Linked DNA regions of Homo sapiens: region 2 is linked to region 1. The links come from fine-mapping of genetic effects on gene expression. A gene starts in region 1. The other region holds a variant in brackets. All regions are shown on one strand. Distances are between the middles of the regions. Region 1 holds the start of DDB1 (damage specific DNA binding protein 1). Region 2 overlaps PGA5 (pepsinogen A5).

Region 1 (10,845 bases):
CATTTTAAAAAGACACCTCTGGCAGTAGTGTGGAGAATGGATGAGCAAGGCCAGAAGGCAGGAAGCAGGCAGGGGAGCCCAGTGAGGAGGTGGCTGCAGCCATCAGGCATGAGTAGATGACCCCTGAACCAAGGCAAAGCAGGAGGGCGGGGTCTGAGAAGGATGTGTGTTGTACATTTGGGAGGAGAAGCACCAGGACCGGGCAACTGATTGGGTGTGGAGAAGAAAAGGGGACGAGTCTGGGAAAATGCCTGTATCTGGGCTTAGGTAGCTGAGGGGATGGCGGGGCCTTCTGAGATCAGGGAACACTGGAGAAAAAGAACTAGCTTCTTGGGGAAGGGCTGGAAAGGTCCAGTTACTGGGTGCTGCCAGGCAAGGGAAGGCTGGAAAGGGCTGGCCAGTCTCCACGTCCCCGGTGGAAGCCCACCTTGTGTATAAGCACCGTGCCGCACAGCCCCCGCCGGCCTGCCTTCTTCAGGACAGTGAAGGCGCTGTCGTCCCCAATCACCACCATCTCCACCGGGATGCCTTCAGCCCGGGCCTGCTCCCGGGCCAGGCCGAAGTTGAGCCGATCCCCAGTGTAGTTCTTCACGATAAGGAGCGTCCCCACTGCGGGAGCAGCCGGAAGGGCTCAGTGTGCTTACTGTGCCCTCCCTGCCGCAGCCCCTCCTGCATGCCAGGCTTACCTGTGCCGGCCTGGGCCACGGCCCTGATGGCTGCCAGGATGCTGCCCACTGCCGGGGAGGTGAACACAGCTCCCGCGATGACCCCAGTCAGCATCCCCTTCCCTATGAAACCTGGAGGTGGAAGGAGTGGAGTGAGCATGCTGGGTGGGACTCGCGCCTGTAGTCACTGGGGCTTCCCACACTCCGGGGGTCATGGTTTGGTGAGCCCTACTGTGTGCTTGGTGCTCAAAGATCCCCCAGGTCTTCACATGGCTGACTCCTTCTTAGGAGGCATCTTAGAGAGGCCTTCTGTGACCTCCCAGCCTGAAGCAGTCACCAGCTCCCTCCCCAGGGACTCACTGTTCCTTTGCCCCATTTTACTGTCTTTACTAAGTCACTTAGCACCCTCTGAAATGATCTCATTTACTTTCGTGTTTACTTGGTTATTGTCTGTCTCCCCTAAGTAGAATATAAGCTCCACGAGGGCAGGGACCTTGCCTGTCTGGTATCCCTAGTGCCCAGTACAGCGCCAGGTACACAGTGGGCTCATGAGTGTTTGCCAAATGAATGGATTTTGCTGAAGGAAGACAGGAAGCAGAGAAATGACGCGCATCCTAGTCCCTGCCCTCCAGCAGCCCTCAAGGAGAGTCTGCGTCCCTGGCTCCACACAGGAAAGAAGCCAGGACAGTCCACAAGTGGGACACAGCAGGTGGGAATTCAGAAGAGGGGTGCTGCTGTAGGCTGGAAGAGTCAGGAAGCCTTCATGGAATCGGGGTGGGTCTGCTGGGCTTGGAGGGTCCAGAAGATTCATGGAATCACCGACTCTCAGAGCTAGAAGGACTTGAGAGATTGTTTGGCCCAACTTCGTAGATTTGTAGATGTAGAAACAGATTCAGAGAGGCCGTGATGGGCCCCTGATCCCAGCCGGAGGGAGTGGGAGAGTGGGAAGTACCCCAGTTCCTGATTCTGGGCTGAGCTCCATCCTGCACTTCATGGCAGCACTAAGGATCCCCCAGGAGGCCCTGTCCACTCCACTAGTACCCCCTGCCCCACCCCAGGATACTCACCAGCATGGGCAGGCTCATGGCCAGAGCCCCCACCCGACAGCAGTGCCACCCGGCCCTTGAGGCTGTCCAGGTCAGAACGGAGGGCCACGCGGTGGCCCTGCAGGAGCTGCAGGTTGGGGTTGCAGGCCACCAGGCCAGCAAGAGCGTCATCAGCACAGCCAGCCACCGAGTTCACCAGCTTCTTGGAGGTCTGCAAGGGAGGAGTGAGAAGGAGGTCAGAATGTGGTCAGTACAGATACCCCCATCCTGCGCAGCCACACTGCTGTGGTGTAGACCCCTCTCCCGCATCCACCTAGGAACTCCAGGAGCACAGGACTTCCTTGAGTTGGGCGACATCTTAGGTGGGTATTTCTGTGAGTTTTCAGTAATGTGTGACTTTCTATTCAGTACCTAATTTATGAAGTGTCTTGCACCATACCTTCAATTTATTCTGAAAAAATGGCTGCAATACAAAGAAAATGGGGGAGTGGTTGCCTGCAGTGTAAAATATTTTAATAAAACTGGGGCCCAACACCTTCTTCTGTCAAAAGGAAGAAAAGCCTCAGGCTGAGGCTCCTATGCTGGGGGAGGAGCTGAGCAGGTTCCACAGCCACCGCTGCTCCCTGGTGCTCCAACGCGGGGCAAACATTTCCCCAGCCTCTTGGTATGCCAGGCCCAGCACTAGACACTATGTGTAGAGATAACAGCTCAGGTGCAGTGGCTCATGCCTGTAATCCCAGCACTTTGGGAGGCTGAGGCAGGCAGATCGCCTGAGTCCAAGACTTTGAGACCGGCCTGGGCAACATGATGAGACTCCATCTCTACAAAAAATATGAAAAATGATCCAGGCATGGTGGTGCATGCCTGGAGTCCCACTAGTCGGAAGGCTGAGGTGGGAGGATCACTTGAACCTGGGAGGTCATGGCTGCAGTAAGCTGTCATCGTGCCACTGCACTCCAGCCTAGGTGACAGAGTGAGACTCCATCTCGGAAATAAAAAAAGAGATAACAATGCTGTTCCTGCCCTCAGTGGAAACACAGCAGAGGTCACAGCCATGTGTAGTGGGCACTGCTACACGAGGAGCGCACGTGCACCATGGGAGCATAGAGGAGGGGCCGCAGCCTCCCGAGGGGCCTGGAGGTCTCTGGGAAGGATAAGCAGGACCGGGGTAGGGAAAAAGGGGGCAGGAGACATGGGAGGAGGGAAAAGGGAGGCTCTTCCAGCCAGAGGGGGAGCATAAGCCAAGGCCTGGATGAGTGAATAGTGTGGTGGTGCCAGGAAGCACGGGTGACCAGCAGGAAGGGGTGGGGAGGAGAGGACTGGCCACAGGCAGCCTCAGGAGGGGTTGTGGACAGGCTGGTGGAGGGTTACAGAGCAGTGCCGCCAGGCTTGGCTGAGTGGATACAGGGTGCAGACAGAAGTGAGTAGCGTGGGGGCCAGAATGGAGTGTGGCTTGAGCTCTGCTGTTACAGGGACTTGGGTTCAAATCCCACTTCTGCCTCTCATTAGCTGCAGGAACTCAGGGAAGATACATCATTGTCGGGAGCTAAAATTCTTCCTCTGTAAAATAGGGATTTACTAGAACAGAGTATATGCCCATGATATAGTGGAAACTCAATCAAATGAAGCTACTCCCTTTTTCAAACAGGCTGTGAAAAGCCAGAGTCTGCTGAACAAGGGCTGCAGCCCCTGGCTTTGTCCTGAAGACAGAGTGAGACTGGGGCCCAACGTGGACTCAGAGGGCTGGGCTCCCACCGCCACCTGGTGGCCCGGTGGGAACCTGCAGCTGAGCCAGGTCCTGGCAAGGTGAACTTCCGGCTGTGGCTTCTTCCTGAGCTTGCTAGCACCAGCTCCTTTGTACAAAATTTGGCTCTGCTGCCTCCCTGCCAACCTGTCCTGCATCCAGCCAGGGCCAGGGCTAAGCCACCTGCTTCAGAGTAGCCTAGGTCTGTAGGGAGCAAGAAGAACAATAAGATTGGTTCCATTTGCTGAGCAGTGACTAAGAGCCAGGCCCAGTTCTAAGTGTTTTTGAGCATGTCTCATTTAATCTTCCCAACAGGCCGGGTGTGGTAGCTCATGCCTATAATCCCAGAACTTTGGGAGGCCAAGGCGGGTGGATCACCTGAGGTTGGGAGTTCGAGACTAGCCTGATCAACATGGAGAAACCCCATTTCTACTAAAAATACAAAATTAGCTGGGCGTGGTGGCACATGCCTGTAATTCCAGCTACTCGGGAGGCTGAGGCAGGAGAATTGCTTGAACCTGGGAGGCGGAGGTTGTGGTGAGCCGAGATTGCGCCATTGCACTCCAGCCTGGGCAAAAAGAGCAAAACTCCGTCTCAAAAAAAAAAACCCAAACTAAAACAAAACAAAACTTCCCAACAGCCCTATGGAGGAAAGATGAGCCCAGTGAGGAAACTGAGGCACAGTTAAACTATTTTGCCCAAGGTCACACAGCCAGCAGGTGTCCAGGTCTGCCTGGCTCCAAAGCTGGTTCCCTTTTGGCCATATCATGCTGCTTTCTCGAGGGGCTGGAGGGAAGTGGAGGGTGACAGAGGTTGCCCTAGAAAGGACATGGGTTTGTGGCTCTCAGAGCCTACCAGGGACTGGAACACACAATGAAGTTGTGAGTTGGCCTCACTCCAAGCCCAGCCTCCAGCAGCACTACCCTCCAAGAAAGTGGCCTGCTCCCCATCATGATAATCTGTCTTTTACAGAGCCAGAAGAGGGTTTAGGGACCAGTGCTATCCCTGGTTTCAGTGGCCTGAAAGGATGGAAAAGGAAAGGAAGTCAAGTGAGGCCTCCAGGACTCTGCTTGATCAACACCACACAACCACTGGAGGTAGGCCTTAATTTGCCTTATAATGCAGATGAAGAAAAAGAGGCGCAGAGAGGTCTGTAAAAGGTCATGCAGCTGGTCAGTGGCAGGCTGAAATTTGAATCCAGATATGTTCAAGGCTTGTTTTGGTTCAAATCAGTGGGCCTGGAGCAAAGCCCAGGGACATGGCCAGCCTCCCACACTGTAGATCCCAGCTCCAGACCGGCCCACATAAGCCCCAAGGTTAGGAACGGTCACATGGTCATTCTTCACGATTCCTTCTGTGACCGGTACAATGTCTATTACAGAGCAGGTAACTGTTACTGTTTTACTCTGAATGCAAGACCCAGATAAGGGGCAGAGTGGCTCTGAAGGGACTCAAGAGGCTGCAGCCCCAGGCCTGGCTGGGACCAGCAGCCTCCAGGAAACAAAGAAAAGCAGGGATCAGACCCTGGGAGAGAGGATGACCCTCTCTCTTCACCCGTGAGCCTCAGGAGGCAATAGCATCTCTCAGTCAAAGTGTAAGGAGCTTTAGCTTGCCCAAGGCTGGGATCCTGCTTTGAGACCATGCTGCCATTCCCGTCCCGGCCCTGTATGACTCACCATGGTGTGGAGGCTCTGAAACAGGCTGAGTTCACACCGTTGCACTGAGCTGCTGGAGGATGGACAATCCTGTGCTACCTGGGTCTGAGTACAGTGGAGGCAGCAGCAGCACCTGCAGGAGTGGGTAACGATACAAGCTGCGGAAGGAACTCGCAGTCGACTGGCACAATCACGCCTTCAGCACCCTAGTAATTAGGGAGCTGCCCCAGACTTCGGTCCAAGTCCAAACTCTAGTACATGGGCTACGGATGGAGAAGAGTGTGGGGCTGACCAAGGTTCATGCCTGCACTTCACTGCCAGAAGACAGATCAATCCATGTCAAGCACAGGTCTGCCTTTATGTCCAGGAACAGCACCCACTTCATCACTAAAGGACAGTGATCCTCAGAATAACTATCTTTTACACGGGCATCACATGCAGCGAAAAAGTTAACAAAGCTCGTCACACGCTTGCCCTCACTGGCCTTGGCACCAAAAGGGAAGGGAATGGGGGGAGCTAGCCAGGTTTGTGACCCATTTTACTTCTGGGAAACAGACTCAGAGAGCTCTAGGGACTTGTCCAAGGTAATACAGGTAACAGCCAGAATCTAAACCAATGTCTAGTTTTTCTACAGAGTGTGTTTTTACTACTGATAATTCAGTGCCTCCAAAGTCAGGCAGAGTCTCTGCTATGGGAAAGGCAAGATGTAAACCACGATGACTTTCTAGCTTTTCCTCAGTTCAGCCTGGTTCAGCAGCGTGTTGGCCTCTGTGTGGGTGCACAATAGGAAGAATCAACATAGCTCTGCCTCAGCCTACTTGGGGTTGTGGGGAGGGTCTTAGGTAAACCAATTCCTCCCTAAGCCTCAGCTTCCTCATCTGTAAAATGGGGGTTGGCTCCTCTCTGGCATTCTGCGAGTGTGCCAAGCCACGTGGTATTCCTCTTGTTCCCGGGGAGCCTGTTTGATGTGGGGTACCCTGGAGGCTGCAGGGCTGACGGCTCTCCTGGCTCATTAAGGTTCCCTACGGAGAAATACTGGTTTTGTGTTTGAGGTTCGAATTTGTAGAGCAATAGGGGCACTAATAACGTTGGGCAAGCAGACCGGTGGGCCCTTTGAAGTCTGAAGAATCAACGCGCAAAAGGGAGGAGGTGAGCAGGTGGTCGTTCAAACGTCAGGCGAGGGCACCAGCTGGATCTGGAGGAACTGAGACAGTGAAAGGAAAGCAGGCAAGGTTCTAGTCTGGGATATGCACGAATCGCGGTCTCCCTTCCCTCTCTATGCCTCCGCAGTCCTTCCCGTTCCCAAAGGAGGAACAGCCCGAGGGCTCCTGGAGCAACGGAAGGAGGACTGGATGCGGGGAAGGGCAAAGGGCGCGGAACGGGGTGGGGAGTCTGCGGGCGAGCTCGGAGGACACTGGCGCACCTCCCCCGCCGGCTCACGGCCGCATCCGCCACATCCGAAGGCGCCGCGACTTCCCGGAGACCCCGAAGCGTGCGCTCTCATCCGGGTCCTGCGGGCGCTGGCGGAAAGAGGCGAGGCGGTGCCTCCGGGGGCGGGGCCTCCTTCGGTTGGCGGCCTCGGGCTTCGGGAGTCCTCCAAGAGGCCAGGTGAGGCCGTCCCGTGATGCCCCGCGCCCCGGCCGCTCTGGCCTGCAACGTGTCTCTGGGGCGGAGGCAGCGGCAGTGGAGTTCGCTGCGCGCTGTTGGGGGCCACCTGTCTTTTCGCTTGTGTCCCTCTTTCTAGTGTCGCGCTCGAGTCCCGACGGGCCGCTCCAAGCCTCGACATGTCGTACAACTACGTGGTAACGGCCCAGAAGCCCACCGCCGTGAACGGCTGCGTGACCGGTGAGGCTGCCGGGGCCGGAGACCCCGGCGAGTGAGGGAGTTGGGGGGAGCCGCGGCCTAGGGAGGCCCGCCGCCCCGGGGGCGGCCGGGCAGGAGTGGGCCCGGCGAATGGAAGGCGCTGGCGGCCGAGGAACCTCCCCCAGCACCGCGACCTCGAAAGAGTCGTCCCTGTACGCGCTTTTTGGGGGTTGGAAGCCGCTCTCGAGGGTCCCCTTTCGTCCTGGGGAGGTCATTCGGCCTCGAGAACAGGGCGGGCCCAGTGAGACAGAGGAGTGTGAGTTGGTTGTGCGGTGTCGTTTGGGCCCGGAGATTGGCTTTCTGTGGCCAGGAAAAGGGGAGGTGGTAATGACGACTTTGGGGTCAAGATTTTCCTGTGGGGAAGTCTGGGGGGCCCAGGAGGTGGAGGGATGTGAGGAATGCCCGCATTATCCCACAGAGGGAGAGGAGCCCTCTTCAGGCTAACCCCTTTGCCTGGGGCTGTTGTTTACATGAGGGCCCTGCTGGAGAAGAGGGTTTGGTTTGCCTGGCCCAGTGCTGGGTTTGCCTTGTTGACGATGCGCTTGGATTGTTAAGGACACCGATGTTCAGAACCCGGGAAGAGTCATCTTAACCCACATTCTCAGCTGAATATGCAGACCCCAAGCTTGCATGTTTATATACACCCTAATCATGATTCCAAAACAAAACTGTTGTTCAGAGTTGGAGGTAGCTGAGTGTGGATGGAGGTATTGGTAGACTGCCAGGAGGGCAGGGGGTGTGGACAAAACAGTGTTTTCATATAAAGCTCTGGGACTTCTTCATTTGACTTGGTCTGTCAGATAAAAGTTTTGTGAGACTTTAGATGAAGACTGGAAGAAGTGAACACTTTCTCCGGCATTCTCAATTAGAGCCTGCCACTGTAACTGTAATAGAGTAAAATTGGAGGGGCAAGAGGCATGAGAAGGGATTACGCAGTCATTGTCATTTGGAGGACACACGGCTCTTAGGTCCAGTCCAGTTTTCTTAGTCTGATTAGGGAAGTAGCTTTGTTGAATGCATGAACTGAGACTCTTTGAGGTGCCGGATTTGGCAAGAAGGGGAGTAGCTGGAGGGAGTTGGAGAAGTATGTGAAGTAAATGAGAATTCTGGAGGTATTTAGACATAAGTGATAGGATTATTTTGAAGGGATGGGAGGCCCTTCCCCTGAGTTCAAAAGTTAGAGGGTCTGTTCTTTCAGGACACTTTACTTCGGCCGAAGACTTAAACCTGTTGATTGCCAAAAACACGAGATTAGAGATCTATGTGGTCACCGCCGAGGGGCTTCGGCCCGTCAAAGAGGTGGGCATGTATGGGAAGATTGCGGTCATGGAGCTTTTCAGGCCCAAGGTAAGTGTTGCAGTTGGGACAAGCAGTGGAGGGGGAACTGTTGGTCGTAGGTTGTTTTATGTTATTTTTGTTTGTTTATTTATTTTCTTTGAGACGGGGGTCTCACAGTGTTGCCCAGGATGTCTTGAACTCCTGAGCTCAAGCAATCCCTCCACTTTAGCCTCTGGAGTAGAGTAGCTGGGGTATTGTAGGCATGCCACCGTGCTTGGGCTGTGTTAGGTTGTTTTGCGAATTCTTGGGATGGGTGGAATATGCTTTAGGAGAAAAACTCTTCTCTTTTTTCTCTCTTTGGATAGCAAATTTCAGTATGTACTCTTGACCAAGCTTTCTAGAAGTAAAAGGAGAGATTCATTAGGGAAACATTTATGAAGTTGACTTCTTTAGAAGGGAGAAATTAAAGCAGTTTGTTTCAGAGGATAGGCTACAGAGTGGGGCAGTCCTGGCTTCATTTCTTGTTAATTCTGACTTTAGGTGCCACTTAAGGCACCTTTCAGATCAAATCCCCTGGGTTGTTGTGACGATGAAATGATTCAGTAACATAGGGCCTATCATATAGCAAGCATTTACAGTTATGTTAACAATTACCAGGCCGGGCATGGTGGCTCACGCCTGTAACCCCAGCACTTTGGGAGGCCGAGGTGGGTGGATCACGTGAGGTCAGGAGTTCGAGACCAGCCTGGCCAACATGGTGAAACCCCATCTCTACTAAAAATACAAAAGTTAGCCGGGTGTGGTGGCACGTGCCTGTAATCCCAGCTACTTGGCAGGCTGAGGCACAAGAATTGCTTGAACTCAGGAGGCGGAGGTTGCAGTGAGTGGAGATGGCGCCCATTGCCCGGTGACAGAGCGAGACTCCATCTCCAAAAAAAAAAACACCAAACAAAAAAAACAATTACCATCAGTATTTTCATTATTTTAGCGCAAATGTTTTCATCCAAATCACCACCACATTGCTTTATGTTGTCTTAACTGAATCTGGCAAGAAAGCAGTGGGTTCAAAATTTTAATTATAACCCTTTGAACAAAACAGCAATTTTTTGGAGTCTGTGTTAAATAAGTAGGACTTTGTTGATCCATTTTAGCTTCCGTTGTTATTCCCACATTTTTTTTCCTCTTTCTTCAAATACTTGGGGAGGAGTGGAGGAGGCATTACATTCATCTTTCAGAATTTGAATGGGATGATTGAGATTAGCTTGAGATTGAAATAGATGAAGACTTTGTTTGTAGAACAGAGAGATGGAGAATCATGAAAGTGAGAACTAGATGTTTACCAGCTTCAGTTCTGGCTTTTTGTACATGCCCTTAGGGTGTATGTGTACCTAGTGTGGGTTACAAGCTCACCATGTATTTTCTCTTTAGGGAGAGAAGAATTTGGAAAATTCTTAAAGAATTTGGTGTGCTTAAAGACTGGACAGGTTGTTCCTGTTTTAAAAAGAACCTCTTTTGATAGCATAATATTGGTTTCCAGGGGGAGAGCAAGGACCTGCTGTTTATCTTGACAGCGAAGTACAATGCCTGCATCCTGGAGTATAAACAGAGTGGCGAGAGCATTGACATCATTACGCGAGCCCATGGCAATGTCCAGGTGAGGTGGCTGCTTTAGGCCAATGAAAGTTTTCTAAGTAGGGCTGTCATGATTCATGGAAAAAATTAAAGTGCTGGGGGCAGCTCTCTATTCGATCAGAGAAATAAGGAGAAGACACTATGGGTTTGAGCTTTTTGGAGAAAGGACTCCTGTAGTTCACTCAAGACCCAAGGGACAGGGTAATAATTCATTGAGATTCAGTGTTTCATGAAAAAGGCATGCACTGACATTGGGGCTCCAACTATTTGGCCTATCAAATAGATCCATTAGTTTTAATACCTCTCCTAAAATTTTTCTGCACAAGTGGTGCCCAGCGTCCTCTGTTGCTCTGTGGATGTTGAGGTTCTTCCCTAATCCCGATTTTGTTTCTCAGGACCGCATTGGCCGCCCCTCAGAGACCGGCATTATTGGCATCATTGACCCTGAGTGCCGGATGATTGGCCTGCGTCTCTATGATGGCCTTTTCAAGGTTATTCCACTAGATCGCGATAATAAAGAACTCAAGGCCTTCAACATCCGCCTGGAGGAGCTGCATGTCATTGATGTCAAGTTCCTATATGGTTGCCAAGCACCTACTATTTGCTTTGTCTACCAGGTACTGGATCAGGAAGAGAGAGCGAGAAACTGTGAGGTTGATGTGATAGGAGTTGTTTTTGCTAACTGGCATGTCTGGGTTTGGTAGGATAGAGAGAAGTGTTTAATGTGTTTGTCCTGAAATGTTTTGAACAACACAATTAATATGGGTCAGACTTTCGTTGCTTCTTGAGTGCAGTAGTACTTATTGTGGAGGCAGCAAGCTCTCTGGGGCTTGTAGCAGGTTTTAATCCTGAGATTACACTCTGGTTGTGGGCCTTGGGAGATTTCATAGGATGACCCAGTTTATACTTTGATTCTCTTACTGGAGTGCTAGGGGATTATTAAAACTTAGTTGTCAAGAAAT
Region 2 (11,062 bases), 81 kb after region 1:
GGGGGCTTCTCGGGGGGAAGAGTCCACCATGTAAGGAGGTCACTGTGTCCGGGAGACTCTGGAGAGAGGACCTCTGCCAGTGGCCCAGGGTGTGTGCAGGGCAGCTCCAAGGATGAACCTGGTGGGGATGCCTGGGCTCCCTCCTGCAGGGGCCCTGGTGAGGATGGAAGACCCCCAAGGCTGGATGTAACCTTGTTCCCAAGAAGTGTTTGGAATGTGCTGTAAGAATGGAGGAAGTCGTTTCCACTGTCAGCATCCTCCCTGGACCGCGTGGCTGGCTCATCTTTTGAGAAGGGTTGGGACTGCCAAGTTCTCCTGGAGGAAGAGTTGCGTCCGGCTGGGATTCCACTCACTGGGACTGTACCGCCAGGTGTCATGCGTCTCTCTGAGGTTTCCTGATTAAAGGTTGTCTCGGTTTCCCCATGCTGCACTGCTCATTCACCGCTTACCTGTGGGAAGGTGGGAAACGTGACCCCAAGCCCACAGGTGGTAAGTGAGCATCCACCTTTACCCCACTGCTGGGGAGAAAAGCTGGCACCAAATTGTGACTGGGCTGGGGAAGGGTCTCCTGTAAGCACTTGGCGGCCTTTTATATTGGGAGACTTCTTTTTATTTTTTTCCCCAAGATCATGATTTTCTTTTCTGTTTTCTTTTTTCTTTTTTTCACTTTTATTTTAAGTTCAGGGGTACATGTGCAGGTTTATTATATAGTTAAACTCGTGTCACAGGGGTTTGTCATACAGATTATATTATTTCATCACCCAGGGATTAAGCTTAGTACCCATTAGTTATTTTTCCTAAGTCTCTCCCTCTACCCTCCCTCCACCCTTCCATAGACCCCAGTGTGTGCTTTTCGTGTCTATGTGTCCATGTGTTCTCATCATTTAGCTCCCACTTACAAATGAGAACATGCGGTATTTGGTTTTCTCTTCCTGCGTAACTTTGCTAAGGATGATGGCCTCCAGCTCCATTCATGTTCCTGCAAAGGACATTATCTCATTCTTTTTTATGGCTGCATAGTATGTACACCATGGAATACCATACAGACACTGGGGGGCTTCCACAGTGAGAAGGGAAAAGATGATGGAGAGGACTTGCTTCTGGGAAGGAACCTCTGAGACGAAATGACAGACCAGCAGTTTCTTTTTTGAGATGGAGTTTCGCTCTTGTTGCCCAGGCTAGAGTGCAATGGCAAGGTCTTGGCTCACTGCAACCTCTGCCTCCTGGGTTCAAGCGGCTCTCCTGCCTCAGCCTCCTGAGTATCTGGGATTACAGGTGCCCGCCACCACACCTGACTAATTTTTTGTATTTTTAGTAGAGTTGGGGTTTCACCATGTTGGCTAGGCTGGTCTCGAACTCCTGACCTCAGGTGATCTGCCCACCTTGGGCTCCCAGAGTGCTGGGATGACAGGCCTGAGCCACCGCGCCGGGCCGGGCCAGCAGTTTCTTAAGACGTGTTTTCAGCAGGAACACCTGTGGGCAGCGGGGAAGGAGCAGGGAGGGAGAGTTGGGGCTGCTGGGCCTTCTCGAAGCCTCAGCCAGCCCCCTCTGGGAGCTCTGGGGTTAGGCTGGCCCTTCGGAGCTGTCCTGAGCTGGAGCTACGGGGCAGGGCTTTCTGCCTCATATTGACCAGAGAGCTGCTATCAACCACCTTCCCAGCAGCTGGGAGACTGATCCTTCAGTCCTAGTGGGGGGATCTGGGCAGTGTAGCACAGTGTGCATGAGAGACGGAAAGAGGACAGTGCCGTCATGAATGGGGGGATGCGGATTTGTGATAAGGGAAGTGATGTGGGGCTGGAAAGCAGAAGCTGCTCTGTCACCAAGTCACCACTTGCTACCATTTTTTTTTTTTTGAGACAGGATGTTGCCCTGTCATCCAGGCTGGAGTGTAGTGGCATGATCACGGCTCATTGCAGCCTCAACCTCATGGGCTCAAGCCTTCCTCCCACCCCAGCTTCCCGGGTGGGTGGGATTAGAGGCACATGCCACCACGCCTGTCTAACTTTTAAAAAAATTTTGTAGAAATAGGGTCTCGCTGTGTTGCCCAGACTGGTCTTGAACTCCTAGGCTCAAGCGATCCTCCCACTTCAGCCTCCCTGAGTACTGGGATTACGGGCCTGCAGCCCCACACTTGCTACCACTGAAACCCATGGAGGCTGCGGAGTGAAAGCACCCCCGGGCATGGCCCATCGCTTTGCCGAGGCCGCCCTCTTCTGAGCCCTTCTCTGACCTGCTACTCACTCTGTGTCCCAGGGCGAAGGGTCTGCTGAAGTGTTTCCTGGCTGCAAAGGCAACCTGGTATCCAGTCCAGACGACAGTGTAGTCCTGGCCTCTAACCTGCGGCTGGTGGCAGGAATAATAAATGTGGGAGATAGGAGCATGGAAACCAAACAGTTTAGAGAGGCAAAGGACTTAGAGGCCGTTTTGTCCAGTAAGATACAAAGGGTCATGGTCATGAGCGGGGTCTGCAGCCAATGAATCTCAAGTTGGAGCCTTGCTCAGCTGGACTAGCTGTGGGATATTAGGTCTCTGCTCCCTTATTATTATTATTTTTTGAGACAGAGTCTTGCTTTGTCACCCAGCCTGGAGTGCAGTGACATGATCTCGGCTCACTGCAACCTCCACCTCCCAGGTTCAAGCGATTCTCCTGCCTCAGCCTCCCGAGTAGCTGGGATTACAGGCACACGCCACCATGCCCAGCTAGTTTTTGTATTTTTTGTAGAGATGGGGTTTCGCCACGTTGGCCAGGCTGGTCTCAAACTGACCTCAGGTGATCTGCCTGCCTCGGCCTCCCAAAGTGCTGGGATTACAAGCATGAACCACCGCGCCAGGCCTCTGCTCCCTTATTTGGACAATGGGGATAATAACAGGCCTACTTTATGGAGTTGTGACAATGACGTGTGATAATGCCTCCATAAGTCTCAGTGGTTTGCACTTGTGGCCCTGTGGCCCCTAAACTTGCTACAGCCCACCCGGCTTGGTGATGCCACGTGGGGTCTGATTTCAGGATAAAAGCGTAGAATTCTCATTGCCCCCATGCTGCAACTTTTCAAACAAGTCCATCTGTCAAAATGGTAGTGGCTAAAAATTAGTGCCAATTTCCTCATTGCTGTTCCTTTATGCAATAAGTTAGCATGCAATTTAAGTTTAATACTAGTCCCCCCCACCTGCCTCTGCAAATAGGACTCATGTCAATGATGTTCATTTTGAATGTTTAAAAAAAAGGAGTCCGGGTGTGGTGGCTCATGCCTGTAATCCCAGCATTTTGGAAAGCTGAGGTGGGCGGATCACGAGGTCAGGAATTCAAGACCAGCATGACCAATATGGTGAAACCCCATCTTTACTAAAAATACAAAAATTAGCCAAGCGTGATGGTATGTGCCGATAGTCCCAGCTACTCAGGAGGCTGAGGCAGGAGAATCGCTTGAACCTGGGAAGCAGAGGTTGCAGTGAACCAAGATCGCACCACTGCACTCAGAGCCTGGGTGACAGAGCGAGACTCCATCTCAAAAAAAAAAAAAGATTGGTTGGGGGTGGGGCAGGGGGACAGCTGTAAACACTTTTCCCAAGTTTTTCCGAGTATAAAAACATGTTTAACTGGACTGTTCCCCACCCAATATTACAGCTGAGAAGCAGAGGCTCAGAGAAGTTAGGAGAGTGTTCTAAGGCTGCACAGATTATGACGGCTGAATGGGAAGACAGCCTCATTCGTCTGACTCCCAGTCCAGGTGTTTTTCCTTCGCTTCACATTTCACCTGATGAGGTTCTCCTGTTGGTGTTTGGAGAGACAGCTGATGGCCCACAGTTTAGGAGGGGCCCTGTGAACACTATTTTAGTTTGGGTTCCCCCTAAAGCAGACCCAGAGATAGTATTCGGGTGAGAGCCAAGAGAAAAAGACCAATCAAGGGGCATTGATGAGCCGGTTGCAGCTATGGGCAATTGGCACTTTGTCCTAGGGACCTTCTGGAAGACTGTGGAGCCCATGCCTTGCCTGAGGATTGTCCCCCAAGGGTGTGAAGATGCACCAGTAGTTGTCCCTCAACTTTCGTCCCTCACTGGTCGAGCCTTGTCCTGGGCTTTTGGCTCTCTAGCACACCCTGCTGGCCTTGCCATAGTACTGAGCCTGCCTTTCTGCTTGTCCCCAGGCACCAGAAGGCTCTTGGGGCAGAGGTGCAGGAGCCATGGGTGGAGGGCTGGGTCAGGGCTCTCACTGGGCCATGTAAGCACATGTTCTGTGCACGGTAAACCGCAGTGCACCAGGAGGCAGGAGTCCACCTGAAGCCCCCAGCGGGGCGCGCAGTGCCTTTAATGGGATAAGCTGCTCTGAATTCTCGGGAGCCTGTGCTCCAACAAGCAAGGGAGTGTTTGTTCTTGGATGGAGACACCTTGCATTTTTCCTGAGCTAGGATTCCACTTTTAGGGTTCTGAGAAACAGAACAGAATGGGGGTGTGTCGGAAGCTTATTCTGTGGCCTCAGTTTCCCTTGCACCTGGCAGCTTCTCAAAGGGCAGAATGATCAGACCTGTTTCAAGAGACCTGATTTTAAAGGTTATTAGATGCATGGCCTGAAGGCAAGTCACGGTAGGTTTCTAAGTAGGACAAACTTACAGAGGCTCAAAATCGCTGTAATTCACTTTTTTTTTTTTTTAACTTACCCTCTTTTTAAGATCTTTCCGAGGCTGGGAGTGGTGGCTCACATCTGTAATCTCAGCACTTTGGGAGGCCGAGGTGGGTGGATCATGAGGTCAGGAGTTCCAGACCAGCCTGGCCAACATGGTGAAATCCCGTCTCTACTAAAAATACAAAAATTAGCTGGTGTGGTGGCAGGTGCCTGTAATCCCAGCTATTCAGGAGGCTGAGGCGGGAGAATTGCTTGAACCCGGGAGGCCGAAATTGCAGTGAGCTGAGATCATGCCACTGCACTCCAGCCTGGGAGACAGAGCAAGACTCCGTCTTAAAAAAAAAAAGGTCTTTCCATCTTAGCACCCAGTGAGCACATTTGCTTCTTCCTTTTACAGCTGTATATTGTGTGGATGCACCATAAGTTGTTGAACCAACTCCTGTGGATGCACTTTTGGGTCATTTCAAATCTTGCTTTTCCACATGATGCTACAAAAAATCATGTCCTTACATCGCTTTGCACATCTACTAGTGTATCTTTAAGGTAAATTTTCAGAAGGGAAGTTACTGAGCCATATGCTTTTTTTTCTTTCAGACGGAGTTTCACTCTTGTTGCCCAGGCTGGAGGGCAGTGGTGTGATCTTGGCTCACTGCAACCTCCACCTTCCAGGTTCAAGCA[A/G]TTCTCCTGCCTCAGCCTCCCAAGTAGCTGGGATTACAGACATGGGTCACCACACCCGGCCAATTTTGTATTTTTAGTAGAGATGGGGTTTCACCATGTTGGCCTGGCTGGTCTCAAACTCCTAACCTCAGCTGATCTGCCTGCCTTGGCCTCCCAAAGTGCTGGGATTGCAGGCATAAGCCACCACACACGGCTGGGAAGTGACATTTAAGCCACGTCTGCAGATGCTAGGTGTTAGCTAGTCAAGAAAGAGGGAAAAGCAACCCAGGCAAAGGGAACAGCATGTGCAAAGTCTGGAGGTGGGAAGAACACATGGGCTTTTGTGGCCGTGGGAGGCCAGGGTGGACGGAGCTCAGGGTAACGGGATCAGAGTGAAGCAGGGAAGGTTTGGAGGGAAAGGAGCACACAGGACCTGGAACTATGCCAAAGATTTGCTGTTTTATTCCAACGGCAATGGCAAGAAGGCATTAAGAGTTTAAAGCAAGGAAGGGATGAGATGAAATTTATGTTTCCTAAAGTTTATTCAGCTATGGAAAATGGGCTTGGGAGGGTGAGAGTGACCCTGGGGAGACTGGGTGTTGGAGCTCACCCCCGCCCTTCCTAGAGCCCAGCTCCAGCCTCTGGGTTTGTGTCTTCAGCAGACAGCCTAGGTCGGCTGTCACCAGAAGCAGGAGCTATGGGAATTTTCCCAGCATGCATGCCGGGGAGCCCAGGGCTGTAATAGACTTACTAGCAAGAGAGAGTCTGAGATGAAGCTCAGCTGAGTAAAAAAGAAACAGATCACTTTGCAGCAGGACTTGTCAGAGCTTTTGATTGGGAACTGTAGCTGGTGAACCCTGGGGAAGGGCCTAGAATGTAGCATGTTCTATACTTATTCTGAAACTGTGTTTTCCATTGAACATTTTGCTACCAAGCCCAGTCTGAGAAACTGCTCCATTTCCTCTTTGCCTTTCTAGGGCATATATGCTAATGAACATGCTTAATTCTCTGTCTCACAACCTCTGCTCAGGGAAGTGGAAGACCTTTCTCTTTGGTTACAGATGGGGAAACAGATGGATTCAGTGTCTTATGCCTGGGACTTGGGGGAGATTAACTGTTAGTCTTGGTAGCCAGCGAATCACAAGGGCATCCTATAAGATTGTGGGGTGTCAGCTTCTTCCACTTCTCTTGTCCATGTCTTGCAGACAACACTGCCCTGTCCTATCTACTTAGGGACATCACCATTAGTGTCCGCCTTTCCTGACTCTCCTGATTGCTTTCCTTTCCTCATGAGCTCTTTTTTTTTTTTTTTTTTTGAGATGGAGTCTCGCTCTGTCGCCCAGGCTGGAGTGCAATGGTGCGATCTCAGCTCACTGCAACCTCTGCCTTCCAGATTCAAGCGCTTCTCCTGCCTCAGCCTCCCGAGTAGCTGGGATTACAGGCACACACCACCATGTCCAGCTAATTTTTACATTTTTAGTGGAGACAGGGTTTCACTGTGTTGGCCAGGCTTGTCTCAAACTCCTGACCTCAGGTGACCTGTCCGCCTCAGCCTCCCAAAGTGCTGGGATTACAGGTGTGAGCCACTGTGCCCAGCCTTCTCATGATCTCTTATTGGCTTTGGGAGAAAGAAGAAGTTGACTCCCTCAACTAAGAGCTTCAGTGCCCTATTTTTTTTTTCTTTGAGCTGGAGTCTCTCTGTGTCGCCCAGGATAGAGTACAATGGCAGGATCTCAGCTCTGTGTCCCTTCTATGAGAAGACAATTAGCTCAGTATTTTGGCCCCCAGGTCTTTTTATGATGCTTCCAGCACAACCCCCTGAAGCCTCTCTGTCTTCCTGGCTCCATCATGAAGTGTCAGCTGCTGGGGTCACTATGTTGGGTGCCATCCAAGTGGATGTGGTCATTTTCATCCCTGCCCTGGCGTTCTAACCCCAGTAATGTGAAGGAAAAAGACCAGCAAAGAGAAGCAGCTCCACAAAACCTGTTTCAGTGGGTTATGTTTTTATTCTACGTTATTGGTAGGACAGGGAACAGGGCCAAGACCTTCACACTCCCCTGGGAAGAACAGTCAGGAGAATTAGATACATCTAAAGTGGGCATAGGACGGAGGCCAGATCTTCCTGGGAGGTGGCTGAAGAGACTTAGGCTTAAGCCACAGGGGCCAGGCCGACCTGGTTGTTTGCCCTGTCGAAGACGGTAAAGTACTGGCGGATGAAGACATCACCCAGGATCCAAAGCTCTCCAGATTCGGTGGGGACGTTCATGCCCTGGAAGCCACTGATGCAGCTCCCCTCGCTCTGGAGAAAAGGAGAATAAAAGTGGAGCTGGGACACCGATTCAGCCGTGATAGGCGCTGGGTGATAAACATCCAGGGAGCCCTGGTCCAGCTGTAAGGCACGTGCAAGGAGGAGCTTCCTGGCTCAGTGTCCAGGGATTCGGCTGTTCTTGGCCTGGAGTCAGCCTGTAGAAGCCATCCAATGCACGACTGGTTTCTACGCATTACTGGACATTATCTGGTGTTTCTGGCAGGCACACGAACCCTGACATCAGCATCGGTGCTAAGGGGCTTAGGTAGAATTCAGCTGCTAGGAAGGAGTTTAAAAACCCTGCCACTACATCCTTTTCTCATTATTATTCTTATCTCATCAGGGACAAACCAGATGAGCTATTAGCCCTCTTGCCTCACTAAGTCACTGGGCTGCGACCTTGTCTGCACATCACCTGGGGAGCTTTGAACCCCCGCAGCCCCATCCCATTGCTCAGGCCTTGCCCTCTCCTAATGTAATCAGAATCAGTGGGGGAGCCCAGGCATCAGTGCTTCTTGTTGAATAACTTGAGTCCACTGGCAAAATTAGTTTTCCACCTGACGTTATAATAACAGAAGGGAAAGAGTTTTCTTGTGGCTCGTATAGCTAAAGATTTGCTACTTGGTAGAGATGGTAGAAGTGTTGGAAGCCCCAGCCTATGGAAATTAGGATTTCCATTTGCCCAACCCTTGGTAGCTCTGATGTGATCAGTCTCACTTGGTTGACCTAACCGCACTCTGAGGGTGGGGAAAGCTGCCATCTCTACCTTTTGGATGCGAAAACTGAGGGTGAGATGAGCTGTAGCTTGTTCAGAATCAATGGGCTAGTAATTCAGACCCAGGACTTGGACGCAGGGGTCCAAATAGAATCCTCTTTTCACTCCATTAACCTTTGCTTCACTTGTTCCCTTAGGGGGCTGTATCCGAGTTCTTATTCCTGCATTTGTTTTTAATATATTCTTTTTCTCTGGAGGCTGTCTAGGGCAGATGTTCGTCTGCCTCTGCCTGCTGGCTTCAGCTCGTGGAAGTGTACTTTCCCTCTGCAGAAGGGGACTCTGTGTCCACATTCTGTGTGAACCTCTCTAGTGGATGGTCCAGAGCCTCCTCACCTGCAGGATGTAGGCACTGGGTGGCACGGGGTACTGGACTCCATTGATGGTGAAGACGATGTCGGGCAGGCTGCTGATGGCTGAGCAGCTGACCACCATCTGGAAAGAGTGAGGGTGAGAAAAGTTAGAAGGGTTTTCGTCGCTTCTGCCTGGCACACCCACTACTTGAGTGTAGAACAGGGCAGTCGGGGCTGGACTCACGTCGCCATCTGAGTTCTCGCTGGCTCCGATGTCGCTCTGGATGTTGGCAATGGGGCTGGTTGGGCCGGTCAGCAGAGAGGTGCCGGTGTCAACAATGGCCTGGCAGCCCTCAGCACAGGCGATGGTCTCTCCGTTCATGGTGATGCTGAGGGTAAGAAGCAAGTTAAGCTCCCTGAGCCCTCAGGGGTTCATCTCTCCAAGGAGGAACCAGGAGGTGAGCCCAGACATTCCTTCCCCACCCATCCATTGGCCAATGCGTGAAATTTCTGTTCCTCTCGTTCACGCACTCATTCATCCCGCATTCATTTACCCTACAAATATTTCCCAAGTGCCTACCCTCTGCCAGGCATGGGAAACGCCAAGCGAAACAAGACAGCCTCACAGTTCCAGGCTGCAGGGAGCTCCCGGCCTAGCTGGCAAGATAAGTTATGTTGGCAGAAGGGCAAGATGATCAGTCAGGCATGAGGCAGGGAACAAAAACAGGGCCCAGGGTGAGAGGTGGTGGAGGGGAGCAGCCAGGGGAACAGACACCCAGGAATGCCAGGCAGGTGAAGAGAGAAGGAGGACATCATCAGGGGATGGTATGCGGGGAGGTACAGAGACCAGAGGGCTGGGGCAGGTGTTGGAGGAACTGGTGAAATTCTAGCATGGCTGGGCAGACATGAGGTGATCCATGTGTCCTGGTTTGCCTGGGCTGGTCCCAGTTTTAGTACTGAAAGTCTCTGTCCTGGGAAATTGTTCATTCTTGGGAAAACCCACACCACTGAGCACGCTAGCAGGCTAGCTGGGGAAGAACAGCGTAGAAATGAAGCTGCCAGGGAGACAGGGGAGGCCCCGAAGGGGAGGGTGGAATGAAGTGACTTCACACAATTTCTTAGCCATTTTGCCCCACTTCTAGACGGAAAGTGACATGTTTCCTCGAGTGGCAGGAGCGTGTGCTTGTTCACAGCCCCCTTAAATTGTGAGATGCGTGGACAGGTGGGTCCCCCAGCTCTCCCCAGGGATGCTGGTGGATGGTCCTGCCTCCGTGACTAGGAGGACAGTGGCCATCTCACCCTTGCAGAGTCTCAGCTTCCCAGACAGCTCTTCCCTCCTCCTGCAGGGAGGTGTCTTTCTAGGGGTCTCTTTGGCTTGGCCAACTTCCACCTTCCCCCTGGAGTGTGTTCCCCTGTGCCAGCTGTTCCTGGGGGGATTCTGGAAAGCTGATTGGCTATGAATCCATAAGGAAATGGGATCTGGGGCCCAGGCCTGGATGCTGCCCGTTCATGGCAGTCTCACCTGTCCACGGTGATCTGCCAGTAACCCTCGACGGTAACAGGCACCCAGTTCAGACTTCCAGTGTAGTAAGAAGAGTCAATGCCACCAAAGATCACCACGCTGCCACTCTTGTCATCGCTGTGGAAAGTGAGGGGAGAAGACATGAATTTTTTTGTTCGTCCATTTGTGTGACCATCTGCTGTTGCCTCCTCAGAGCGACCGTTGATTGGGCACTTTCCAGGGCTGTCCTGGGGTGTGACCAATGTGGTTTCTTTTCCTCTTAGGCCAGGGCCCATGCAGTGGGCACCGTCACTGTTGTTTCCACTTACCATGAGGACACTGAGCCTGAGGGAGGTGAGGCCACCTGCCCAAGGTCACACAGCGGGGGAGTGGTGGAACTACGTTTGGAAGAACACAGGCCTTATAGTTTGAATGTGTGGTTTCCACCGTGGTACCCACTCTGGTTGCCATGGGGACCCCAGGGAAGTGAATGCATGACAGTGTCCGCTCTTAAGGACTTGAGGGTGGAGGTCACTGGTTCTTAGCTGGGAGCAGTTTTGCCCCCAGGGGCATGTCTGGAGACATTTTGGATTGTCATGATTGGGTGGGGGTAGGGGATGCTGCCGGCATCTCATGGGTAGAGGCTGGGGATGCTGCCAAACATCCTACAATGCACGGGACAGTCCTTGGCGGCAAGGAATTATGGTGGTCTGAAATGTTAACAGTGCCCAGATTGAGAAACTCGGATCTGGCTGGGGAGATACAATGGCCCCACATGAAATATTTAAGTGCTCATAAAGGCAGATGATGTTTCAGAGCCACCTTGAACATTAACTGGCCAAGAAGAATACATGACAAAGAGCCTTCCTGTTGTAAATTGCAGGAGTCCTTGTTATTGCAATATTCATTT

What was found. PIP is the estimated chance that this variant, and not a neighbour inherited with it, causes the effect.
Region 2: its variant is fine-mapped to the expression of DDB1 in whole blood (TOPMed, PIP above 0.99).

Annotation. Positions count from the first base shown.
Region 1 is chr11:61,329,018-61,339,862 of GRCh38, reverse strand. DDB1 (damage specific DNA binding protein 1) reads left to right here and starts at 6,758. Exons shown (of 27, transcript NM_001923.5): 1 at 6,758-6,955; 2 at 8,172-8,320; 3 at 9,789-9,905; 4 at 10,279-10,500. The coding sequence starts at 6,895. It overlaps TKFC (triokinase and FMN cyclase), which reads right to left and starts at 6,635. Exons shown (of 18, transcript NM_015533.4): 1 at 6,534-6,635; 2 at 5,132-5,243; 3 at 1,733-1,922; 4 at 687-797; 5 at 428-609. The coding sequence starts at 5,134. RefSeq lists enhancers at 6,151-6,673, 6,674-7,196 and a silencer at 6,496-6,755.
Region 2 is chr11:61,247,647-61,258,708 of GRCh38, reverse strand. PGA5 (pepsinogen A5) reads right to left here. Exons shown (of 9, transcript NM_014224.5): 6 at 10,174-10,290; 7 at 8,896-9,040; 8 at 8,695-8,793; 9 at 7,265-7,577. The coding sequence ends at 7,428. It overlaps VWCE (von Willebrand factor C and EGF domains), which reads left to right. Exons shown (of 20, transcript NM_152718.2): 20 at 1-423. The coding sequence ends at 34. Among named protein-coding and RNA genes, the nearest start is that of PGA5, 12 kb to the right of the region's middle. The variant A/G (reference allele first, on the strand shown) is at 5,300.